Linked DNA regions of Homo sapiens. The protein of the gene in region 1 purifies or fractionates together with the protein of each later gene. This does not show direct contact. Each region holds a gene or a part of one and is shown in the gene's direction. Other genes may lie near its edges.

What was found.
Region 2: the proteins of SLC25A32 (region 1) and PLPBP purify together in Homo sapiens (affinity purification with mass spectrometry; 2 studies listed by BioGRID and IntAct, with this or other methods). This does not show direct contact.
Region 3: the proteins of SLC25A32 (region 1) and CTH purify together in Homo sapiens (affinity purification with mass spectrometry; 3 studies listed by BioGRID and IntAct, with this or other methods). This does not show direct contact.
Region 4: the proteins of SLC25A32 (region 1) and NLRX1 purify together in Homo sapiens (affinity purification with mass spectrometry; one large-scale study listed by BioGRID and IntAct). This does not show direct contact.
Region 5: the proteins of SLC25A32 (region 1) and LAP3 purify together in Homo sapiens (affinity purification with mass spectrometry; one large-scale study listed by BioGRID and IntAct). This does not show direct contact.
Region 6: the proteins of SLC25A32 (region 1) and OMA1 purify together in Homo sapiens (affinity purification with mass spectrometry; one large-scale study listed by BioGRID and IntAct). This does not show direct contact.
Region 7: the proteins of SLC25A32 (region 1) and CBFB purify together in Homo sapiens (affinity purification with mass spectrometry; 2 studies listed by BioGRID and IntAct, with this or other methods). This does not show direct contact.

Annotation. Positions count from the first base shown.
Region 1 is NC_000008.11:103,398,138-103,401,622, reverse strand, and holds the end of SLC25A32 (solute carrier family 25 member 32), read left to right. Parts: coding exon 1-107; intron 108-1,076; coding exon 1,077-1,212; 3' UTR 1,213-2,985; downstream 2,986-3,485. UniProt on the Homo sapiens protein: Facilitates flavin adenine dinucleotide (FAD) translocation across the mitochondrial inner membrane into the mitochondrial matrix where it acts as a redox cofactor to assist flavoenzyme activities in fundamental metabolic processes including fatty acid beta-oxidation, amino acid and choline metabolism as well as mitochondrial electron transportation.
Region 2 is NC_000008.11:37,772,645-37,776,144, forward strand, and holds part of PLPBP (pyridoxal phosphate homeostasis protein), read left to right. Parts: intron 1-110; coding exon 111-245; intron 246-2,664; coding exon of another isoform or gene 2,665-2,694; coding exon 2,695-2,837; intron 2,838-3,273; coding exon 3,274-3,372; intron 3,373-3,500. UniProt on the Homo sapiens protein: Pyridoxal 5'-phosphate (PLP)-binding protein, which may be involved in intracellular homeostatic regulation of pyridoxal 5'-phosphate (PLP), the active form of vitamin B6.
Region 3 is NC_000001.11:70,417,768-70,421,267, forward strand, and holds part of CTH (cystathionine gamma-lyase), read left to right. Parts: intron 1-169; coding exon 170-265; intron 266-3,500. UniProt on the Homo sapiens protein: Catalyzes the last step in the trans-sulfuration pathway from L-methionine to L-cysteine in a pyridoxal-5'-phosphate (PLP)-dependent manner, which consists on cleaving the L,L-cystathionine molecule into L-cysteine, ammonia and 2-oxobutanoate.
Region 4 is NC_000011.10:119,175,225-119,178,724, forward strand, and holds part of NLRX1 (NLR family member X1 isoform 1 precursor), read left to right. Parts: coding exon 1-50; intron 51-3,500.
Region 5 is NC_000004.12:17,590,698-17,594,197, forward strand, and holds part of LAP3 (cytosol aminopeptidase), read left to right. Parts: intron 1-3,500. UniProt on the Homo sapiens protein: Cytosolic metallopeptidase that catalyzes the removal of unsubstituted N-terminal hydrophobic amino acids from various peptides.
Region 6 is NC_000001.11:58,505,227-58,508,726, reverse strand, and holds part of OMA1 (metalloendopeptidase OMA1, mitochondrial precursor), read left to right. Parts: intron 1-2,517; coding exon 2,518-2,667; intron 2,668-3,500. UniProt on the Homo sapiens protein: Metalloprotease that is part of the quality control system in the inner membrane of mitochondria. Activated in response to various mitochondrial stress, leading to the proteolytic cleavage of target proteins, such as OPA1, UQCC3 and DELE1.
Region 7 is NC_000016.10:67,084,649-67,088,148, forward strand, and holds part of CBFB (core-binding factor subunit beta), read left to right. Parts: intron 1-3,500. UniProt on the Homo sapiens protein: Forms the heterodimeric complex core-binding factor (CBF) with RUNX family proteins (RUNX1, RUNX2, and RUNX3).

The DNA of each region.
Region 1 (3,485 bases):
ATATTTGCTGTCGCAGCAACATACCCATATCAAGTCGTAAGAGCTCGTCTTCAGGATCAACACATGTTTTACAGTGGTGTAATAGATGTAATCACAAAGACATGGAGGTGAGAGCACGTGCTATATCAAAAATTGCTTTGACAAGGTACCTTGCATATCTTAGACCATCCTGTTGATACTAGTTTTATAGCAAAGGCCAGTTTGCTGTGGTGAAAACATGATTGGTGGTCCCTGCTTTCCCAGTTATTACGTATGTGACCATGGCCTTAATCTCTCTGAGACTTAATTTCTTCATTTGTAAAGTAAGACTTTCTAACTAATAGGTTGTTATAAGAATCAAATTAAATGTGTGAAAATGTTTTGGAAAATAAAATTTAGGTGTTATAAAATATCTGAATGGTATTGAATATAAGAAGTCATAAGACTAGCTTAATACATTCAAGAAGGCTCCACACCTGCTACTGGCACCATAACTTTTGCAAATACTTGTTTCCATATATGAAAGAGATGTTTGTTCTTCAGTATGAGACTAGTTAAATTATTATAGGCAGACATCACCATATTTCCCTTTAATTCTAAAGGAACAGAGGAGAACATTTAGGATGTTTAAATTTAATTCAATTCAAGAAATATTTAATGAGCACCTAAGTGACAAATTTCTAGGCCGTATTCCATATTATTGGCATTAAGGAAATAAAGTTTTATATTTGTATGTGCTGTATTTAATGTTGGCTAGCATTTATCCAAGCTATGAGGTTTTTTAATGCCTACATTAGGTCAATTAAAACTCCTGCTTGTACATACATTTAAAAGCATTTGAAAGATAGCTAATTGAAAGCACTTTTTAGTTCAGTTTTGAGGTGTCCCTACCCTCTCTTACTCAGTCCATCCATAAAAGGAATGTAAATCCCTACAGATGGCTTATAAACTACATTACTTTAGGACATTGAAAACATGAACTTAAATCAGAGTAAGGTTTGACTGCTGCTTGCTCCATGCCTTGTGTCAGTTAGAACTTCCGTGTTTTCAAGCTAGCTCTATACAAAATTAAGCATTATCTATTTTTCCCTCTAAAGGAAAGAAGGCGTCGGTGGATTTTACAAGGGAATTGCTCCTAATTTGATTAGAGTGACTCCAGCCTGCTGTATTACCTTTGTGGTATATGAAAACGTCTCACATTTTTTACTTGACCTTAGAGAAAAGAGAAAGTAAGCTCAAAGAGGACAATTCCAGTATATCTGCCCAAGGCAGCAACAAGCTCTTTTGTGTTTAAGGCATAAAAGAAGAATTCTGCATAGAAACATGGCTCATATTCGAAATTGCTCTATAGTCATTAGAAGCCAGAGAACTGCTAAGTCTCCTGCAATGTTTTTCTTGCTTTTTGCCTTCCCCATATATATGGAACTTGGCTACCTCTGCCTGAAATGGCTGCCATCAACACAATGTTAAAACTGACACGAAGGATAGAGTTTCACAGATTTCTACGTTTTATTGGTGGAAGCTGATTTGCAACATTTGCTAAATGGATTAGATGAATGTACTTCTTTTTGTGAGCTTACTTGCCTGGATTGCTTTAAAATTAACCTTTGTGCAATACCAAGAAAATAGCTCTTTAAAAGAATGTCTTTGTATGTCTCAAGGTAAATTAAGGATTTACTGAATAAGGTGTTGACCAAATCCAGACCATTTTATTTTATTTTTTTATTTATTTATTTTTTGAGATGGAGTCTTGCTTTGTCGCCCAGGCTGGAGTGCAGTGGCGTGATCTCAGCTCACTGCAACCTCCACCTCCCGGGTTCACGCCATTCTCCTGCCTCAGCCTCCTGAGTAGCTGGGACTACAGGCACCTGCCACCACGCCTGGCTAACTTTTTTTTATATTTTGAGTAGAAATGGGGTTTCACCATGTTAGCCAGGATGGTCTCAATCTCCTGACCTTGTGATCCGCCTGCCTTGGCCTCCCAAAGTGCTGGGATTACAGGCGTGAGCCACTGCGCCTGGCCAGACCATTTTAGAATTGGGAAATTTTAGTGAGAAAAAATGCACTGTAAATATGCTTTAGTTTTAATTCAGTTGGGATGCACTACCTAGCGAAAATTGAGAAACTATATACTTCTCAGAGAAATATCTGACATCTATTGTCATTCCATTGCTATTTTTTTTCCCCAGAGACTTCCATAATTTAAAATAAAATCCTAGATCCAGTTCTTGTTTTTTGGCATAAATACTTAATCTATTTTAAATTTATAAAATCTGAGCTTCTAGGATCCAGCTGTGTCAACCTTTATTTAGCATATATAACTATAAATCACTTATTACAGATGCTAAATAGATCACCTTTTACAGATGCTGAAATGTTTGGGATATGTTTGTTGACAAGGTAAATGGAAATGAGAAACTTTATACTTCAGTTTTCAGATATATGGATCTAGATCCCAAATAAATGATTAATCTTCATTGGTTTCTCAAATTCAGGTTGAAATACAAATTAATAGCCTTTATTGATTTTACTTTTATGAGTCATTGTAGACATCTATAAATATAAAAGGGCCTGTACCCAAAGGATGCCAGAATACTAGTATTTTTATTTATCGTAAACATCCACGAGTGCTGTTGCACTACCATCTATTTGTTGTAAATAAAAGTGTTGTTTTCAAAGCCATCTTTAAATAGTTCTTTAAAAATAGGTCTTTTTTTTATATTTTGGAAAAGGCATTGTTTTTAAAGTAAAGATAAAATGGTAAGTACCTAATTGTATTTACTGTAATATCTTATAACATGCAGATGAATGCTTTATAAGTTAAATATGATGTATTTTTTCATACTTCTGGATTATACTATAATTCATATGAAATCTTGATATTAGTCCCCACACGGAAAAAGTGAACTGCAGTTGATATTTGGTGTTTAAGATAGCACCATTGTTTAAATACCGCCTATGTACTCCCAAATGAATAAAACATAATTCTTGTCCTCTGAGAGCATACAAGCTTGTGTGATAGATAAATATGCATTAAATAATTACAGCTATAGATTAAGAACTCGTAAGGAATATCTCACAAAGCCTGGTAAGAGTTCTGACAGAAGAGAACTCAATTTCAGTCATTCAACAACAAATAGTCACTCAACTCCTGCTCTTTGGCAGGTACGTCACCAAGCACTGAGGATATAGCAATAAATAAGCCAGACAATATTCCTGCCCTCAGGGAATTTTCATCTTGGTGTAAGTGACAGAAAAGGAAATATATGCATAATGTAATTTCAGGTATTTAATGCTATAAATAAAACTACAGCAGAACGGGGGAATAGTGTTGCTATCTTAGGTAGTATGGTTGGGGTCAGGAAAGGTCTCTGAGATAGTATTTGGAACATTTTGAAAGAAGTGAGGAAGCGAGCCACAGTGAGAGGAAACACATTCTAGGCAGAGAGGACAGGAAGTAAAAAGGGCCTGAGGGAGGAATTAAGTTGGCTAGAGGGGATGGGTGA
Region 2 (3,500 bases), about 66 Mb from region 1:
TTTTTCTTTTCCTGGCATATTTTTTCCTCTAACAAGTCAGAGATTTGTTGCATGTTACTTGCTGCAATAGAGCAAATAAGGAATACTACTTTGCCTCTGTCTCATTACAGCTGTCCCCAATCTCTTCATGCTGGAAACAGTGGATTCTGTGAAGTTGGCAGACAAAGTGAACAGTTCCTGGCAGAGAAAAGGTTCTCCTGAAAGGTTAAAGGTTATGGTCCAGATTAACACCAGCGGAGAAGAGAGTAAGTAACCAGACCTGAATTGTAGATTTTTCTTCCTTTAGGATGGTTGAAGCTTAGGGAGAATGGGTGGGCCCAAGTGTCTGATGGATAAGGTTATAGAAACAAATCACAGGATCACAGGCCTCTAAGTTGGCTGTTTTATGTGTGATCTAGGTAGCATAATGGCATGCAAAGCAGTCTATGTATCATTCTTTACTACATCATGGTTCATTATATCTTAATTTTAGGGGAAGAAGAATGGATGGGGAGTTCAAGAAGGGGATTGTGACTTCGTTTTGTATTTTTGTTTTTTTTTTGAGATGGAGTCTTGCTATGTCGCCCAGGCTGGAGTGCAATGGTGCGATCTCGGCTCACTGCAACCTCCGCCTCCCGGGTTGAAGCAATTCTCCCACCTCAGCCTCCCAAGTAGCTGGGACTACAGGCGTGCACCACCACGCCTGGCTAATTTTTGTATTTGTAATAGCGATGGGGTTTCACCATATTGGCCAGACTGCTCTCGAGCTCATGACCTCTCAAGTGATCCACCCATCTCGGCCTCCCAAAGTGCTGGGATTACAGGCGTGAGCCACCACACTCAGCCTTTTTTTTTTTTTTTTTTGAGACAGAGCCTCACTCTGTCGCCAGGCTGGAGTGCAGTGGCACGATCTCAGCTCACTGCAACCTCCGCCTCCTGGGTTGAAGCGATTCTCCTGCCTCAGCCTCCCGAGTAGCTGGGATTACAGGCACGCGCTACCACGCCCAGCTAATATTTGTATTTTTAGTAGAGACGGAGTTTCGCCATATTGGTCAGGCTGGTCTTGAACTCTTGACCTCAGGTGATCCACCCACCTCAGCCTCCCAAAGTGCTGAGATTAAAGACATGAGCCACTGCACCCGGCCTGGGATTGTGTCTTTCATCTGGAAACCCCCAAAGGTCACCATCACTCCTACAAGGAGTATTTTAAATTTTTAAGACCTAAGATTATATAAATACTCTTAGATCTTAAAAAAATTACTTGATGTTGCATTGGGAGAGAATGGAAGATAATTACTGTGAGTGGGCCAGGTGCGGTGGCTTACACCTGTAATCCCAGCACTTGGGAAGGCTGAGGCAGGTGGATCACCTGAGGTCAGAAATTCGATACCAGCCTAGCCAACATGATGAAACTTCATCTCTACCATACATACAAAAATTAGCCAGGCATGATGGTGTGCACCCATAGCCCCAGCTGCTCGGGATGCTGAGGCAGGAGGATCCCTCGAACCCAGGAGGTGAATATTGCAGTGATCCGAGATCGCGCCACTGCACTCCAGCCTGGGCGACAGAGTTAGACTCCATCTCAAAAAAAAATAAATAAATAAAAAATTATGGTGAGCACCAGTCAATGAATATCTTTATGGGGCTTGGATTAACAGTGTAACATAGTGTGAATAGAAGCATGGGCTTTGAAATCAGACAGACCTTGGGTTTCAGCTACACTACTTTCCAGTATTGTAACCTTGGATAAGTTACCTAATCTCTCTGTACTTCAGTTTCCTTTTTTGGCAATGGTATCATGAGAATGCTTACTTCAGAGGGTGTGGTTAGGACTGAATATGATAATCCAGGCAACATTGTTAGCACAGAACCCTACACATGTTGTTAGCTATTCGTTAAGAATAAATGTATACAGATCAGGCATTTGATTGCAACCATCAAAGCACCAGTATTCACCAAATCTTAGTATGCAGGAACACAGTAGAGGCATCTGTTTTCTAGATAACGTCCTAGAGTCAGACTACCTGGGTTTAAATCCCAATTATCAATAGAAATCTGAAATCAACTATAGGTCAAGTCTTTATTGTATCATTTCTTGATAATTAGCTATAATATGCCCTATTTAAAGACTGAAGTAAATGTTACTAGTATCTCCGCCTAATAAATGGGGGCAAGACAATATCAATAGCTCTTATAACTGTATAACAAATAATTGCTTGCTGCAGATTTCTCTTCCAGTTGTTAATTAGAAAGTTCAGTTAAACTTTGCTAATATATAGCCAAAAATATTTAACATGTACTTTATACTAAATTTTTTGCAACTCCATTAAATTAATAAAACTATAAAAATTCTTGATTTAGAAAAGTAATTCTCAGGTTCATCTGGCATTTTGGCAATGCAAATCTTCCTGGTATCCCAAAAAAGCAAGATTTTTTCTTTTCCATGTCTCCTAGCTGTTTTCAGCTGAAATCCTGAGATGGAGGAAAGAGAATCCAACTGATAGTTCTTTTCTTGAGAAATTTAGAACCTGACCAGAAGCAGAGCAACATAGAAAACCCCAAGTATAAAGTTACTCTTTAGGACTTGAGGCTCTTTCAAGAGGTTCTCTTGTTGGGGGTCACCTCTTCTGTCGTAAGGAAGGGAGGAAAATGGAGCCTTCCTCTGGCCATTTACCCTTGCAGTATACCTGTTTTCTGTTTCTTTTCTTGAAGGTAAACATGGCCTTCCACCTTCAGAGACCATAGCCATCGTGGAGCACATAAACGCCAAGTGTCCTAACCTGGAGTTTGTGGGGCTGATGACCATAGGAAGCTTTGGGCATGATCTTAGTCAAGGACCAAATCCAGACTTCCAGGTACTGGGGGGTCGGGGAGATTGCTCGTGTGCTAAAGAAGCAGGGTGCTGGAGTGCTATTGCAGGGCTGGCTGCAGTGGGGATTGCAGAGTCATCCCAGACACTGCCTGTTGAGTGTTCTAGCCCTCTTTTGAACTCTTCTCAGAAGGAAAAGGGAAGAACAGGTTTCCAAAGCCCCACAAACCTTTTTCAACTCAACTTGAACTTGGCTAAAACATAGTCTTTAGAGAATATGAGATTTCTTCCTCTCCAGTGACTAATAGTTTTCTCGAAAGTGGGATAGTTTGCAAAAAACCCTTTCAGTAACGTCTGGCAATTTTGGCAGGCCTTGAAATCATAAGGAATACATAACCGTTGTCAGAGAAGTTCAGATTCAGACACTTTTGGGCATCGTTAGAGAAGGCAGGAGTAAAATAGGTGTCATCTCTTTCTGTCAGCTGTTATTGTCCCTCCGGGAGGAGCTGTGTAAAAAGCTGAACATCCCTGCTGACCAGGTTGAGCTGAGCATGGGCATGTCCGCGGATTTCCAGCATGCGGTGAGTGTCCTGCCAGTGCCCTGTCTGCCTCGAGGGGTGGGGGTAGGGGGTCTGAGAGGCTGACACAAGAGCAGATCTTTGCTGTAGAAGCCTTGGAAATGCCTTGGGATGGCAGTAAGGTACCCAGT
Region 3 (3,500 bases), on another chromosome or scaffold:
TTCTTGAAATAGAAAAGGAGATTTTGTAATGGTATTAATCAGGGGCCTCTAGCAACTCAGCAGTGATGGCTTCCTATCTGCATTAAAGTAAGTCAGGTAAATACTTGGAGGTGTGTTGTAACCTATAGGCCTGACTTTTCAGCTTACTCTAACTTGATTTTTATTTTAGGTTTGGCCTTTGCTTCAGGTTTAGCAGCCACTGTAACTATTACCCATCTTTTAAAAGCAGGAGACCAAATTATTTGTATGGATGATGTGTATGGAGGTAGGTGACCCCTCTCATTTATATTCTGTAAACTTGTATTTTACAGATAATAAAGTGAGCCCTGAATTAATATTAACAATGTTGCCAGTATTTTTGATTATTTATTATAGTTTACAGGTGTGACAGGTACCTCTATGCTCTCTCAGACTTGGGAAAAGAGGAGCATAAACACTTAGGGTCCATGTTCTGGAACTGCTTATAAGAGAGATTATTTATTTATTTATTTGTTTATTTTTAGATAGGATCTCACTCTGTCACCCGGGTTGGAGTGGAGTGGTACGATCTCAGCTCACTGCAGTCTCCGCCTCCTGGGTTCAAATGGTTCTCATGCCCTAGCCTCCTGAATAGCTGGGACCCCAGGCGCATGCCACCACACCTGACTAATTTTTGTATTTTTTGTAGAGACGGGGTTTCGTTGTGTTGGTCAGGCTGGTCTGGAACTCCTGAGCTCAAGTGATCCTCCCTCTCCAGCCTCCCAAAGTTTTGGAATTACGGGCGCGAGCCGCCTCACCTGGCCAGAGATTATTTACTAAGAATAGTATTTAAGGTGCTAGAATGAATACGTAGCACTTGATCAACTTGCAGACATATTCTGCTCTAGAGAAGATAAGGTTTAGAGAGACAGTGTTCTCCTGTAACTTAATTTTTACCTGTAATAAAGATGAAATACAACTCAGGTTACTCTCAAGAGTTCAACCCCACACATCCCCTTTTGCTTTTTATTTTTTGTTTGGCACCAGGGAAACTTTCAAAAATTTGTTGAGAGATATGGGCCTCTTTTCCCAAAAAATGTTCTTAAGACTACACTGAGTGATTAGCATTTTAATTTTAGGGGTCTCATGGATTGAACCGCTGAAGCCCATCTATGGCTCTAAATTTAAGAACTTCCCATTAACTCTTCATTTAGCATTAGGTATATCTCCTAATGCTATCCCTCCCCCCTCCCCCCACCCCACAACAGTCCCTGGTGTGTGATGTTCCCCTTCCTGTGTCCATGTGTTCTCATTGTTCAATTCCCACCTATGAGTAAGAACATGTGGTGTTTGGTTTTTTGTCCTTGTGATAGTTTGCTGAGAATGATAGTTTCCAGCTTCATCCCTGTCCCTACAAAGGACATGAACTCATCCTTTTTTATGGCTGCATAGTATTCCATGTGTATATGTGCCACATTTTCTTAATCCAGTCTATCACTGTTGGACATTTGGGTTGGTTCCAAGTCTTTGCTATTGCGAATAGTGCCGCAATAAACATACATGTGCATGTGTCTTTATAGCAGCATGATTTATAATCCTTTGGGTATATACCCAGTAATGGGATGGCTGGGTCAAATGGTATTTCTAGTTCTAGATCCCTGAGGAATCACCACACTGACTTCTACAATGGTTGAACTAGTTTACAGTCCCACCAACAGTGTAAAAGTGTTCCTATTTCTCCACAACCTCTCCAGCACCTGTTGTTTCCTGACTTTTTAATGATCGCCATTCTAACTGGTGTGAGATGGTATCTCACTGTGGTTTTGATTTGCATTTCTCTGATGGCCAGTGATGATAAGCATATACCTAACGCTAAATGATGAGTTAATGGGTGTAGCACACCAACATGGCACATGTATACATATGTAACAAACCTGCATGTTGTGCACATGTACCCTAAAACTTAAAGTATAATAAAAAAAATTTAAGAACTTCCATTCCAAAGAAATTAAATGTTAGCTATTTAAAGTGGTGAATGTGGAGAAGACAGGCTTGCCCTTGCCTTTAAGCCCACTGATTTTTGTATTTAAAACAAAAGCAAGGAATTTTGTGAATATACATATACATATATTCCAGATGCTTCCAAATAATTAAAATGTGATTTCTAGAATATTATCATTTTATCTATTTCCTATCTGAACAAAAAGTTAAATCACTAAGTCCTTTAAAACAGCAGTTCCCAACCTTTTTGGCACCAGGGACCGGCGTGTTTTTTTTTTTTTTTTTGAGGTGGAGTCTTGCTCTGTTGCCAGGCTGGAGTGCAGTGGCACGATCTCGGCTCACTGCAACCTCCGCTTCCCGGGTTCAAGCGATTCTCCTGTCTCAGCCTCCCGAGTAGCTGGGATTACAGGCATGTGCCACCACGCCTGGCTAACTTTGTGTTTTTAGTAGAGCCAGGGTTTCTCCTTGTTGGTCAGGCTGGTCTCAAACTCCCGACCTTAGGTGATCCACCTGCCTCGGCCTCCCAAAGTGCTAGGATTACAGATGTGAGTCACTCGTGCCCGGCCTCAGGGACTGGTTTTGTAGAATACAATTTTTCCAGGGACAGGGGGATGGTTCCAGGATGAAACTGTTCCACCTCAGATCATCAGGCACTATTTAGATTCTCATAAGGAGCATGCAATCTAGATCCCTCGAAAGTTAGATTCTCATAAGGAGTGCACAACCTAGATCCTTCCCATGAGCAATTCACAGTAGGTTTCCTCCTGTGAGAATCTGATGCTGCCGCTGATTTGACAGGAGACTGAGCTCAGGGAGTCATATTGCTTACCCGCTGCTCACCTCCTGCTGTGTAGCTGGATTCCTAACAGGCCACAAACCTGTACCTGTCTGTGGCCTGGGTTGGGGACCCCTGCTTTAAAGGAAGGGACTTACTCTTAGTAATCATTTTATCCCTCAGAAATTTGCACAATGTTTCGTATTTTATCTTAGTTTCTTATATTAGCTTGTTGAGTTGAAATTATAGAAATCTGAAACCTTTAGATACTTTTATAATGCAATATAAAAGTCTCATGGCAAACATAGGTATAAAATCCTGAAAATTGTTGATTTTAAAGAACTTTTTACATTATTTTTCAATTTTATATTACCTAGGGTCAGTCTACATACCATCAAAAGTCTAGTTTCTCATTAATGACAGAATATTCTTTTGTTGTTGTTGTTGTTATTGAGTATCAATATCAATTTTTTCTTTAAGTTTTTATGTGTAAAAATCAAATCTAGGTGTATTTATAAAAAATTATTTTAAGTCAAATGATTTACCTTGTTTCACTGTAAAAATCTGGTAGTTTGATTTATATTGTCTCATTTTATCGATTAAAACTTTCAGAACTACATAACAAAAAGATCAAAAAAGTACAAAGAATAGTAACCAATTCTTTTCCATTACAAAGTATATTGAAATTTATTTTGAACCTTTCATTGACATTGATTCATTTAGTTTAGAGTTGAGAACTAGGTAGAAATTGTTTGAAAAGATATGA
Region 4 (3,500 bases), on another chromosome or scaffold:
CCAAGCTGCTGCCTCTGCGGGCTCTGCCTCTGCTCTTCAACCTGATCAAGGTAACATCCCGATCAAGGTAACCCCCCAACCTGCTCCTTCCCTCCCCAGCACCCCAAGCCGCCCACGCCCCCACATGGTTCCCTGTTCACCCCTTGCTCCTCTCCCAGCAGGAAACTGCTGCTTCCTGCAAAGGTATGAATCTTCTCCCTGGATCTGGTTTCAGCTCTGAGCATTTTGGCTTTTAGTGGGATTGCAGAGAGAGAAGCCACAAGGCTGGGGAAGGCTTGGTGGCTGGGGAAGGGAACCTGGGGACGTGGGGACTTTAATAATAATGCTACATGGATTCCTAAAAATGGTTTCCTTTTTGTGTCTTTCCTCCTAGGAGGCAGGCCTATCCTCTGCTTTGCAGGTCCAGAAACTCGATTGTGTCTGCTCCTCCAGAGGTGATTAGGCTCTGAGAGTGATGACTCATCCTAACTAAATCACCAGAGACGGGTTTATAAAGCAGATGCCATTTTATTCATTTATACTAGGAAGATAAATGGCATTGGTAATTGGCTTAGGGGAGTCATCATGAGGGCAGGTCCACTCCAGAAACCAAATTACAGACCTGAGGACTGTGCTGTGAGTGGCACAGCTGAGCGAGGTCTTTGAGGGCTGGAAGGAGCCACTCTGTGTGATGTGTGCCAGGCGCGTTATCAGTGTTCATCCTTTTGTTTTTCACATTACTCCTGGAAAGGAAATACTATTATGATCCCTTTTATAGATGAATAAACTGAGGCTCAGAGAGGTAAAGTAACTTGTCCAAGATCACTCAAATAGTAAGTTTAAAAGCCCAGGGCTTTGTGATTCTGAATCCTGTGCTCTTTCTGCCAAACTATACTGGTGCATTACGGATATGTCTGTCGAGCTGTGGGACCTTGCTAGGTAACCTTTGTTTTCTCTAGGAATGTTTCAGCAACGCATTTTGAGGAGGCAGAGTGCTGGTTAGTGCTGGCAGAATTTCAACACTTTTTAAAAATTTAAATGTATTTTTATTTTTATTTTTTGAGACAGAGTCTTACTCTGTTGCCCAGGCCTAGAGTGCAGTGGTGCAATCATAGCTCACTGCAGCTTCGACCTTCTGGGCTCAAGCAATCCTCCCACCTCAACTTCACTGAGTAGCTGGGACCTCAGGCATGTGCCACCATCCCCAGCTAATTTTTAAAATTTTAATTTTGTAGCCGGGTGCAGTGGCTCACGCCTGTAATCCCAGCACTTTGAGAGGCGAGGCAGGTAGATCACCTGAGGTCAGGAGTTTGAGACCAACCTGGCCAACATGGTTAACCAAGTGTGGTGCCGGGTGCCTGTAATCCCAGCTACTTGGGAGGCTGAGACGGGAGAATTGCTTGAGCCTGGGAGGCAGAGGTTGCAGTGAGCCAAGATTGCGCCACTGCACTCCAGCCTGAGCAACAGAGACTCCCTCTCAAAAATAAAAAAATAATAATAACAAAATTAAATTAAATTAAAAAATAAAAAATTTTTAATTTTGTAGAGATGGGGTCTCACTAGTGATCCTCTCACTTTGGCCTCCCAAAGTGCTGGGCTACAGGTGTGAACCACTGTGCCCAGCCAACTTTTTATTTTTATAGGCACCAAAGCATAAGGGCTAAGAACAGGGATTTGGTAACTCAGCTATTTGAGTTCAAATCCAGGCTCTGCTACTTATTAGCTGTGAGACTTTGGACAGGTTACTTAGTTCTGTGCCTCAGATTCCTTATCTGTGAAATGGAGATAATACTAGAACTTATATCACTGGCCTAATATGAAGATGAAATGAACTCATCCTCAGGGTCTAGGACATGGTAAGTGCTATTTAATTGTTTTTTGTTTGTTTGTTTTTTTGAGATGGAGTCTCGCTCTGTCGCCCAGGCTGGAGTGCAGTGGCACCGTCTCTGCTCACTGCAACCTCCACCTCCCGGATTTAAGTGATTCTCCCAGCTCAGCCTCCCAAGTAGCTGGGACTACAGGCACCTGCCACCATGCCCGGCTTATTTTTGTATTTTTAGTAGAGACAGGGTTTCTCCATGTTGGCCAGACTGGTCTTGAACTCCTGACCTCAGGTGATCCACCCACCTCAGCCTCCCACAGTGCTGGGATTACAGGAGTGAGCCACCACGCCCGGCCTATGCTGTTTAATTGTTTGTCACACATAGAAACAGACTTAGTTCCAGACCAGCCTGGCCAACATGGTGAAACCCCATCTCTACTAAAAATACAAAAATTAGCCGGGTGTGGTGGCACGTGTCTGTAATCCCAGCTACTCGGGAGGCTGAGGCAGGAGAATCTCTTGAGCCCAGGAAGTGGAGGTTGCAGTGAGCTGAGATCGCGCCACTGTACTCCAGCCTGGGTGACAGAGCGAGACTCTGTCTCACAAAAAAAAAAAAAGAAAAAAGAAAGAAACAAAGAAACAGGCTCGGGCAGCCCACCCCTTCTCACACATCACCTCCGACAGGAGGTCACAGCTGCTGCTGAGGCCACCCCGCCTTGAGGATGTGCCTGCCGGACCTGAGTTGCAACGAGAGGCTGCAGTCTCCCGAGGGGATTCAGAAAGCCCCCAGTTATTGAAAACCCAGCAGAATTGTCAGCCCTGCACCCCCAAGCCCTCTTGGAGGGAGGGTTGCCCTGGCAGAGCACTGAGCCCATCTGTTTATTCACCATCCTGTGGATTCAGCTTCACAGGGTGACATATTCTGTCACAGGTTGGTGTTGGAGAAGGGGCACTATCACCTCTATGAGAGTAACCTCACATATAAACATGAAAACAAGCCAGGTGCAGTGGGGCACACTTGTAGTCACAGCTGTCAGGAGGCCAAGGCAGGAGGATCGCTTGAGCCTAAGAGTTAAAGGCTACAGTGAGCTATGATCACACCACTGCACTCCAGCCTAGGTGACACAGCAAGACTCTGTCTCTAAACAAATAAAAATTAAAACATTAAAAAGTAAAAAAAACCCAGATGTTAAAGGACGTGCCACAAAACAACGTCATGGTTTGTTGCCAGAGGAATGACCCTTCTTCCCTTTCAGAACCATTGCAGGAATGGGGGAAGATATCACAAACCCCCAACATTTATTTCTTTGTCAGATATTTGAGTGCCTGCTGTGTGCCAGGCAATGTGTTAGAATCTGAGGAAATGTCAGTTAACAAAACTACAGGTTTCAGCCCTTTCTGATCTAGTCTGAGCTCCTCTCCCAGAAGGAAACTGCTACTTCCTGCACAGTTTGAGCACAAAAATATCAATGTAACCATATAAGGAAAAATTACAGCAAATGCCTGGGAAGAAGGAGCCCCAGATGCCATGAAAGTGTATAGTGGGGGAACTGGTCTGCGGGGTCAGGAGAGCCTCTTTGTGGAAGGGCATGTCGTCTGACCCTTGTAGCATTAGCCAAAGGAAGAAGTTGGGGGAGGGGAAATGCCCCAGGAAAGGGCAGCACCCTGGAGGCTTTTTTTTTTTTTTTTTCTCTTGAGA
Region 5 (3,500 bases), on another chromosome or scaffold:
AGTAGCTGGGACTACAGGCCCCCGCCACCATGCCCGGCTAATTTTTTGTAGTTTTAGTAGAGATGGGGTTTCAGCTTGTTAGCCAGGTGGTCTCGATCTCCTGACCTCGTCATCTGCCCGCCTCGGTCTCCTGAACTGCTGGGATTACAGGCGTGAGCCACTGCGCCTGGCCACTAAAGTGTGTATTATAAAAACAATACAGCAAACACAATTTAGAAAGTTAAACTTTTTTTTTTTTTTTTTTTTTTTTTAGTAGAGACGTGGTCTTGCTATGTTGCCCAGGCTGGTTTTGAACTTCTGAGCTCAAGCAATCTGCCTGCCTTGGCCTCCCAAAGTGCTAGGATTACAGGTGTGAGCCACCACACCCAGCCTAAACTTTTGTTTTGTTTTGTTTTTTGAGACGGAATCTTGCTCTGTTGCCCAGGCTGGAGTGCATTGGCGCAGTCTTGGCTCATTGCAACCTCTGCCTCCTTGGTTCAAGTGATTCTCCTGCCTGAGCCTCCCGAGTAGCTGGGATTACAGGTGCCTGCTACCACTCCTGGCTAATTTTTTTTGTATTTTTAGTCCCGAGTAGCTGGGATTACAGGTGTCTGCCACCACGCCTGGCTAATTTTTTTCTATTTTTGGTAGGGATGGGGTTTCACCATGTTGGCCAGGCTCGTCTCAAACTCCTGATCTCGTGATCCCCCCACCTTGGCCTCCCAAAGTGCTGGGATTACCGGTGTGAGCCACCACACCTGGCCCTAGACTAAATGTCTTGCCAATTGTGACACAAATATTTTTATGCTAAGGGTGAAGTTTATTGTTAATTTAAGTCCACATTTGTAATTTTTGCTGAGAATAAAAACAAAGAGGCCTAAACCCAAAGCCTTCTTTGGGTTTAGAGAAGGTTTCCTTGCAGGAGTGTCAGTTTTAGCTGAAGATGTGAAGAATCAGGAGGAATTAGCTCAGGAGAGACTAGGGACAGGCATTCTAGTGCAGGGAAACATGGTGAAGGCTGTAAGGTGGGAAGGAGCAGGGTAAATTCCTGGTATGGCAAGAGTACCAGTGTGCCTGCACACAAGAGCGTGATGGAGAGAAGGGGCAAGATACGGCTAGAGAGGTACACAGAAGCTTGGTCGCTGCGGGCCTGCTTAGATTTTTGCACTCTGCTCTGAGAACAGTTGGCCGTAACTGAAGGGTTTCCACCAAACAGAATGACGTGAGATTTATACATACAGTGAAATTCACCCTCTAAGTGGCCAGCTCAATGAGTTTTAACAAATGTGTGCACCTTGGGGGGGTGCAGTGGCATACACCTGTAATCTCAGCTACTTGGGAAGCTGAGGTAGGAGGATTACATGAGCCCAGGAGTTCAAGAGCAGCCTGTGCAACATAGTAAAACACCATCTTTAAATAAATAAATAGATAGATTAGATAGGTAGATAGATTGATTTTAAAAACCAAAGAACAAATGTATACACCTATGCACCGTTCACCACTGTCAGGAAAATACAACATTTTTATCATCCCCCAGAAGTTCCCTTCTGCCTTTTTGTAGTCATTCCCCACCTGCCCTTGCTCCAGACAGCCGATCATCTTCCTATTACTGCAGATTAGTTTTGCCTATTCCGGAAAGTCATATAAATGCAGTCTTTGATGTCTGGCTTCTTTCAGCGTAGTATCTGGGGTTTATCTATGTTGTTGGTCATGTCAGCCATTCTTCTTTTCTATTGTTGAGTAGTGTTCAATTGTATGGAAATGCCAAATTTTGTTTACCCATTCATCTATTGGTGGAAATTTGTGTTGTTTCCAGTTTTAGGCTATTAGGAATAAAGTTAAGAGCATCTGTAAGCCTTTGTGTGGACGTGTTTTCCTTACTCTTGCGTAAATACCTAGGAAAACAGCCACTGTGTTGTATAATAACTGAGTGTTTAACTTTTAAGAAACTACCAAACTTTTCCAAAGCGGGTACATTTTCACTTCTACCATCAATGTACAAAGATTCTAATTGTTCTACACCTTCCTCAGTATTTGATATTGTCAGTCTTTATAATTCTAGCTGTACCAGTGAGTATACAGTGATCTCTCTTTGTGGTTTAATTTGCATTTCTCTAGTGACTAATGAAGTCGGTCATTTTTTATTTTTTGAGACGGAGTCTCGCTCTGTCACCCAGGCTGGAGTGCACCTCGGCTCACTGCACCTCCGCCTTCTGGGTTCAAGCAATTCTCCTGCCTCAGCCTCCCGAGTAGCCGGGACTATAGGCACACACCACCATGCCTGGCTAATTTTTGCATCTTTAGTAGAGACGGGTTTTCACCATGTTGGCCAGGCTGGTCTCAAACTCCTGATCTCAAGTGATCTGCCTGCCCCAGCCTCCCAGAGTGCTGGGATACAGGCATGAGCCATCACACCCAGCCAAAGCTGGGCATTTTTTAATGTGCTTATTGGACATTGGTATATCTTCTGTAGTAAGGTATTCAAATCTTTTGCCCCTTTTTATAGGAGTGTTGGCTTTACAGAATTGTAAGGTTTTTTAAAAATATATTTCATTTTAAGTGAGTTTTAGATTTTGACGCTATGCTTCACTTTGAATCTTTGTGTATGGTGTGAAAAGACCTGGTTTGTTTTTGTCTTTTTTTTTTCCTATGTGGCTGTTCATTTACTTCTGCACTGTTTGTTGAAAAGACTGTCCTTTCCCCACTAGACTACCTTGGCACCTCGGGTGGAAATCAGTTGTCCATATAATTGTAGGTCTGCCTCTGGGCTCTGTATCCTTTCACCAGTGCCTGAAGACCAAATATCTTGATTACTGCAGCTTTGAGTAGGCTTGAAATCTAGTCACATGAGTCCTCCAGCTTTGCTCTTCTTTTTCAGAATGACTTTGGCTACATCCTTTGCATCTTCATATACATTTTAGAATCTGCTTGGGTTTTTTTTTTTTTTTTTTTTGAGACAGTGTCTCACTCTGTTGCCCAGGCTGGAGTGCAGTGGTGCAATCTTGGCCCACTGCAGCCTCGACCTCCCTGGGCTCAGGTGATCCTCTCACCTCAACCTCCCGAGTAGCTGGGACTACAGATGCGAACCACTATGCCCAGCTAATTTTTGTATTTTTTATAGAGATGGGGTTTTGCCGTGTTGCCCAAGCTGGTCTCGAACTCCTGGGCTCAAGTGATTTGCCTGCCTCAGCCTCCCTAAGTGCTGGGATTACAGGCGTGAGCCACCACACTCGGTGAATCTGCTTGTTTTTTCACACAACAAAACCTACTGAGATTTTGATTGAGATAGATTTTGTGTGTGTGTAAAAATGTGCTGTTTTTATGGTTAATGAAATGACAGTGGTGAGACTGATACAGAAAGACCCGTTAAGGAGACCTGACAAACATCCAAATGACAGAGGGTAGTAGCATCAATGAGGGCGGCTGAGTAGAAAATAAGTGGGTGGATTTGAGAGAGATTGAAAAAGTGAGCCAAAGCTGATTGCTGATCTTTAACTGGTGGCTACCTTAGAACCATAGTC
Region 6 (3,500 bases), on another chromosome or scaffold:
TGGCCCCTAGATATCTAGGGCGTTTTAGATTCCATCAGTGCTACAAGGCTGGCAAGACAGAAGCCAGTTCCTAGGGCAGCTCTTAGAAAAGTTGGAATGTTAGATACACAAGCCAAGTTTTTCCTTCCCCAAGGAGTGGTGGGGAGCTGCAGGTGTTCTTATGATCATATGGTGCTGTATTGGGGGTACATAATTGCTCTCGCAGATTATGGCAAGAGGGTGTCTCCAGTCTTCTACCAGGTTTGATGTTGTTCATTTCGTACTTGTGCAGGTGCAGAAGCATTGCACCTAGTTTCAGGATTTCTCACAAAGGGAATTCGTATATTATCGTTGAATCAGTGTGTTCATGTGGGGAAGGAGGGTTTAGGGCGTCCTATTCTTCCATCTTGCTGATGTCAACCTGTTACTTATTTTTCCTAAATTGGAAAAATGTAAATAAAATACTCATTTTGGAAACAAAATTATCTGACTTTAGTGGCTCTTTGAACTGGGTTTGAGAAGTACAGACAAACTCAACACTCTTATCTTAACATTAAAGTAGATATCTCAAGTCCCCTTTTAATACTTTTAGCTTGGAATACTTTCTAGTCTGTAGGGATAATTAATTTCTTTTTCTATTTCTGCATATCAAATATTGCTTTAAAGATTCCCTTCAGCTGTGTTACTTAGAGATTGAATAGGGAAATATTTTGTCTTTTGATTAACAGTTTTAGGCTAAAAAAATTAGATAAGTATGCCTTTGGTTTGTGTAGCAGACAAACTTCATGTTAGATAATTCGTGAATTTGTAGTCCATTCAAATGTTTATCTTCCAGTTTTCAGAGGGGTTTTTTGTTTGTGTTAGAATTCTTTCAAGTCATTTTATATTTTTATGAATTATTTGAGAAGAATACTTGTTAATCTCAGCCTGTATTTTTATTGTGAATGTGATTACCTATTATTGAGGGGCATAGTCCTCTGGGTGTTTCTAATTCAGCATCAAATAATTATTTCTTTATAGATACATATGTTACATACATATTTTACACATAAGCACACACACATCTTGCATATATAGATATGTATTTATATGTGTATAAACATGAATAATATTTATGTTTGTTATATACATTTATCTTGTATATTCCTGTTTATATACATATAAACATGTATATCCATATCTGTGCAGTAGTGTATAAAGTACCTTGAATTCTTTTCAACTTAGAATACTCAGAGGTCTTAAGGAATTATATTTCTTTAAATATTGAATAAGATTTACTTGAATTTAAAATTTTTTATTTTGCTAACATTTGGAAATGCTTTAATGGTATTTGTTAAGAAATGATGTAGCATGGTTGTTGACTAGCATGCAGTGTTCTATTAATATATTTGCCTTTTGGGGTTTCACAATTACACTATTATAAATCTTTTTGAGAGTACATTTTAGTCAGTATAGTATATATATTTTTTCTTAGTTTTAATCAAAAATAAAATCATTGGGAAATATAACCACTTGTTTTCCAGTTACTTATTATAGAAAGAATAAGTTAAGAAATGTGAATAAATTGAACAAATTAATAAAATATTTGTTAATAATCCACCTTATGGAGGATTTAAAAATAATTTTAATTATAAAATAATGTATTTTAATATAGTTCAGAAATAAAAGTGTTGCTCCCTCTCCACTATCAGATACCTCAGGTACATTCTTAGGGTAGTTAACAGCTTCTTAAATAGCTTCTCAGATATGTTCTGTGCATATACAAGTATATACGTATGAGTATGTATATGAGTGTATGATGGAATTGTACATACACAAGATCTACATATATTCTTTTAAAAAGTACTAATGTACTTTTATATTGTACTTTTATAAGGTATTGTGTTTTATAAGGTATATGAATTAAATATATTGTCCATATACATTGAGAAAATTGGGTAAATTGATGTGCATAATAAACATGTCATCTCTTTATGTTTATTTGAAGTTTTTTTCTGATTGTTCTAGTGGCATAGAAGTAAAGTTTCTTTAATACAGTTTAATAACATTATATTTTAAAACTTTATGAAAACAGAATTTTTAATTTGTGTAAAAGATTTTACCCTTAATACATGTTCTTAATATCCATCATACTGAAAATAGTGGGCTATCTTTGGTTAGCAGGGTTATTGTGAATGTTGTATATGGGAAGGGCAGGCATTCTGTTATTTCAGTACTGTGATACCATGTTGTTTGAGGTGGGTCTTTTTCTAAGCAATGGGCATGTTCTACTTTTATTAAAGTGATGATAGAAAATGACTTTAAAGCATGTAGTGACATAAAGTTGTTAGGAGATATAACTAATGCTAAATGACGAGTTAATGGGTACAGCACACCAACATGGCACATGTATACGTATGTAACAAACCTGCACGTTGTGCACATGTACCCTAAAACTTAAAGTATAATTATAATAGAATTAAAAAAAAATAAAGTAGTAGTTTTTAAAAAATCCTCAAAACTGAGCTCATTGTGTGGTTTTACTAATTTTGGTTTTAGGCTTGTGCAGACATAAGAGCCAGTTCAGTGTTTTGGCAGCAAATGGAGTTCGTTGATAGCCTGCATGGCCAACCCAAGATGCCAGAATGGTTATCTACACACCCTTCTCATGGCAATCGAGTTGAGTACTTGGATAGACTTATACCTCAGGTGAGCTGACACCGTAGAAGGCGGGACATTATTTTTACTGTATCATTTATTTTTAATGCTGTCACTTCTTTTGCTTAGTAAAAGAGAGTTCTAGCCTATTAACTATTTTGATTACTATAATTATGGATTATCAGTTGTCACAGAATTTGACTGAAAAGCAAAATTCTGCTTGTCCACAAGTCTTGGAGAATAAATTACTATGTACAGTTGACTTTTCTTAATAGTGAAGGTTTAACTCCTTTAGTATGAGACTTTAATTTTAACTGACTTGATGAAAGTTTAAAACTCAAGGCATATTAAGTTTTTTAAACATGTTGATGATAATTTAATCTTTCCTTGGTGATTTAAGCTTTTTGTTAAAAATACCAGTTAATGAGTTGTACAGAAGTTTTGGGTCAAGTGGATATTAATTGTAGTAGTGGTACTGGAATTTGTTTTTTTAGGAAAAAAAATCTTCATGTTTGTTTCTGGTTATTTATTTCTTTATGAAGATAAGAGTGAAGCATTTGCTCTCTGGCTTTTCTTTCTGTAGAATTCATAAGTGGGTCAAGCTGAGGCGGCTTTCTGCCAAGTAGTTTTCAGTATCCTCTGAAAATCTTTTGATTTGTTGACATCATTCAGAATGTTTTTATGGTTTCCATATCAGGACAAAATGGATGTTAGGCATCTCTGAGCCACGTTACACGCTCTCTTCTATCTCACTTGTATTAAATTTGGTGGCTTGTTATGAAAGCGGAACATTTTTTAGCAATTTAAGAATTGGTACTGGGCCATGTGCTAAGGCATAGCACAACAGATCCAGGTGTATTATAGAAGTATCTTTCTCATGCCTG
Region 7 (3,500 bases), on another chromosome or scaffold:
TCACCACTTTTTTTAAGTTTTTAAGTCAATGTTACATAATGAAGAAAATTTGTGGTTTTTTTCCAAGCACAAAATTATATGTACACTATTGTTTAAATTAAGGTGTGTGTGCATACGTGTGTGTGTGTGTGCGTGCATGGGTGCAGACAGTGGCTAAGAGCCCAGACTCTACAGCCAGACAGAAGTCTGAATCTGGCTCTGTCATTTACTTTGTCAGCTTGGACAGCTTACTTCACTTTTCTATGACTGAGTTTCCTCATCTACAAAATAGGAGTAATAATCCTGCCTGTCTCATATGGTCATTGTGAGGATTAAATGAGTAAATACATGTGAAACCACTTTTAGCGTATGTGCCACTGACTAGGTGTCAGGTGCTATTATTATTGTTAATATTATTTAAAGTATTACATAAAATTTCTAGTTGTGTTAAAATATATTTACTTAGAATACATTTAAAAATCAAGCCTATTTGGTGGTTAGTGTATGAAATAAATTGTGTGTGTGTGTGTGTGTCTCTGTGTGTGTCTCTGTGTGTGTGTGTGATGGAGTCTCATTCTGTCGCCCAGGCTGGAGTGCAGTGGCACAATGTCGGCTCACCGCAACCTCTGCCTCCCGGGTTCAAGCGATTCTCCTGCCTCAGTCTTCTGAGTAGCTGGGATTACAGGTTCCTGCCAGCACGCCCGGCAAATTTTTGTATTTTTAGTAGACACGAGGTTTCACCATGTTGGTCAGGCTGGTCTCAAACACCTGACCTCGGGTGATCTACCTGCCTCAGCCTCCCAAAGTGCTGGGATTACAGGAGTGAGCCACCGTGCCCAGACTTGAAATAAAATTTAATATCTTTTTTTTGGGTGGGGGTGGGGGGAGATGGGGTCTCACTCTGTTGCCCAGGCAGAAGTGCAGTGGTGTGAACATGATTCACTGTAGCCTCAACCTCGTGGGCTCAAGCAGTTCTCCCTCCTTGACCTCCCAAAGTGCTGGGATTACAGATGTGAACCACTGCACCCAGCCTAAAATTTAGTATCTTTTTTTTTTTTTTTTTTTTTTGAGACGGAGTCTCGCTCTGTCGCCCAGGCTGGAGTGCAGTGGCGCATTCTCAGCTCACTGCAAGCTCCGCCTCCCTGGTTCAAGCCATTCTTCTGCCTCAGCCTCCCGAGTAGCTGGGACCACAGGCGCCCGCCACCATGCCCGGCTAATTTTTTGTATTTTTTAGTAGAGACGGGGTTTCACCGTGTTAGCCAGGATGGTCTCGATCTCCTGACCTCGTGATCTGCCCGCCTTGGCCTCCCAAAGAGCTGGGATTACAGGCTTGAGCCACTGTGCCCGGCTTAAAATTTAGTATCTTTTAGTGATTGCTAGATCTCTTTGTCAGTGAGTTAATTAATCTAATGGGCTGATAGCAGCTGAGGATGTCCCCAAGAATACTTGTTAGCTAAGAGAAGAAAATGGAGGGATATATGTGATACTTGTTTTCTTTGATGCTGTTGTAATTCTTGTGATTTTCATATATGTGAATACAAGACTTCCACACCATGCCCTTTCTTTCGGTATCTGTAAAATTTAGAAGCTTTAAAATGTATAATGTACATTTGTTACATTTCTGAACCTTTTTGCTCATGCTCTTTGTTCCCTGATGTAGAATGTTCTTTTCTGTCCGTCAAGGCCCAACCTGAATGTTGTCATTAAATGTCAGGCCTTTCCTCAGTCTTCTTAGTCATAATCATAAAGCCCTTCCATTCTGTAGCACTTTTTATTTCTACTAGTGTTCTTATTGAACAACATGTTGAAACAATTATAAACATTTGTGCCCTCCACTTTATGGCAATCCCATGAGATGGAGCCCCTGATTTTTGTGTCTTCCACATTACCTACCACAATCCTTTGTACACTGCTTAGTTGTTCATTGGATATCTTCAAAAAACAGCCCCTATCCTGCCTGTCTGAAAACTAGAATTATAGGAGAGCCTGCTATGATAGTTCATGTAGATAATACATATTAATGGTCTCTGGAAAGATTCTAAATATTTATAATGTGTTGGTTTATATTAACTAGTTAAGTAAAGTAATAAACCCCAAGTGTGTTGGTCTGTATTCTGCATTAGGGACTGAGAAATATATAGATGAAAATGCATTGTTTCTGTCTTTGATCAGCTGTCAGTCTTGTGGGAAAATGATGGATAAACAGATCATTGCAGTGTACTTTAGCAACCACCATACATAATGGAGGTTCAAAAGGGACAGCAGCAGTGTAGAGGAAGCTTAAGTCTGCCTCTGCTTGGGAAATTCACAGGGTAGTATACTTAGAGGGATTTGAAGGAAGAGTGTGTTTTGCCAGCTGTTCAAGTTGGAGAAAGCATTCTGGGCAGGACAAACAGTGTATGCAAAGGCATGGAGGAGTAAGGAGGAGTAAGAGAGCCTGCCAAGTCAAGAGAGTGTGATTGGTCAGTATTTCTGGAGCAAGCTAACATGGCTTTAAATGAATATAGGAATCATTTTCTAAAAAGTGCTCTTCAGCTACATTATATTTGGAGATTAACTATTTGACAATTAATGGAACAACTGTTGAAAGCTTTTGTATGTATTTTGCTTTACATAAAACTCTAGATTAATTGACTAAGAATTTTCTATTCTAAATTGTGGTGGCTCACACCTTTAATCTCAGCACCTTGGGAGGCTGAGGGAGGATTGCTTGAGCCCAGGAGTTCAAGACCAGCCTGGGCAACACAGCAAGACTTTGTCTCTACAAAAAATTTAAAAACTAGCTAGGCATGGTAGCATGTGCCTGTGTTCCCAGCTACTTGGGAGGCTAGGTGGGAGGATCGCTTGAGCCCAGGAGGTCAAGGCTGTAGTGAACTATGATTGTGACACTGCACTCCAGCCTGGGCAACAGAGCAAGACCCTGTCTCCCTGACCCCACAAAAAGAAATAAATACATTGTTAATTTGATTTTTCTAATTTAAAATGTTGGAAGAATATTTTGGTATGTGAGTTTATATGTATATATGAACAGAAATATAGTCTGTTGATAGAAGTGTCACATAATTTGTTGCTCAGATAGATTGTTTCTACTTGTTTTTTTGTCAGTGATTGAGAGCATGGGCTTTGTAGTCAGGCCTAGTTGAGATTCCTGCTCCGTCACTTGCCTCAAGAGCCCTAATTTTCTCACAGAATTTGAGTATTAAATGGGAAAATGCTTGTAAAGCACTTAGTATGATGCTTGGTATGTGTATGCCTACAGTAAATAATAGCTCTGAAGTACTTCTTTTTAGCACTAAAAGCTCCACCATAATGCTGGTTCCAGTTAATTGAATTATTTGGCTAACAAGAACATCCTTTTAGTTCTCTGAAGTGTATCAAGGCACTTTCCCTACATTATGACCTAGAGCATAGAGAAAAGAGTTATATTTTCATCAATGATTTAAGATCCTGTAGTCCCTTATGGCAGTAATTTAAAACATCAGTTCTTGTAGAGAACTGTCATCTGGAAAATTGGGCTGGAA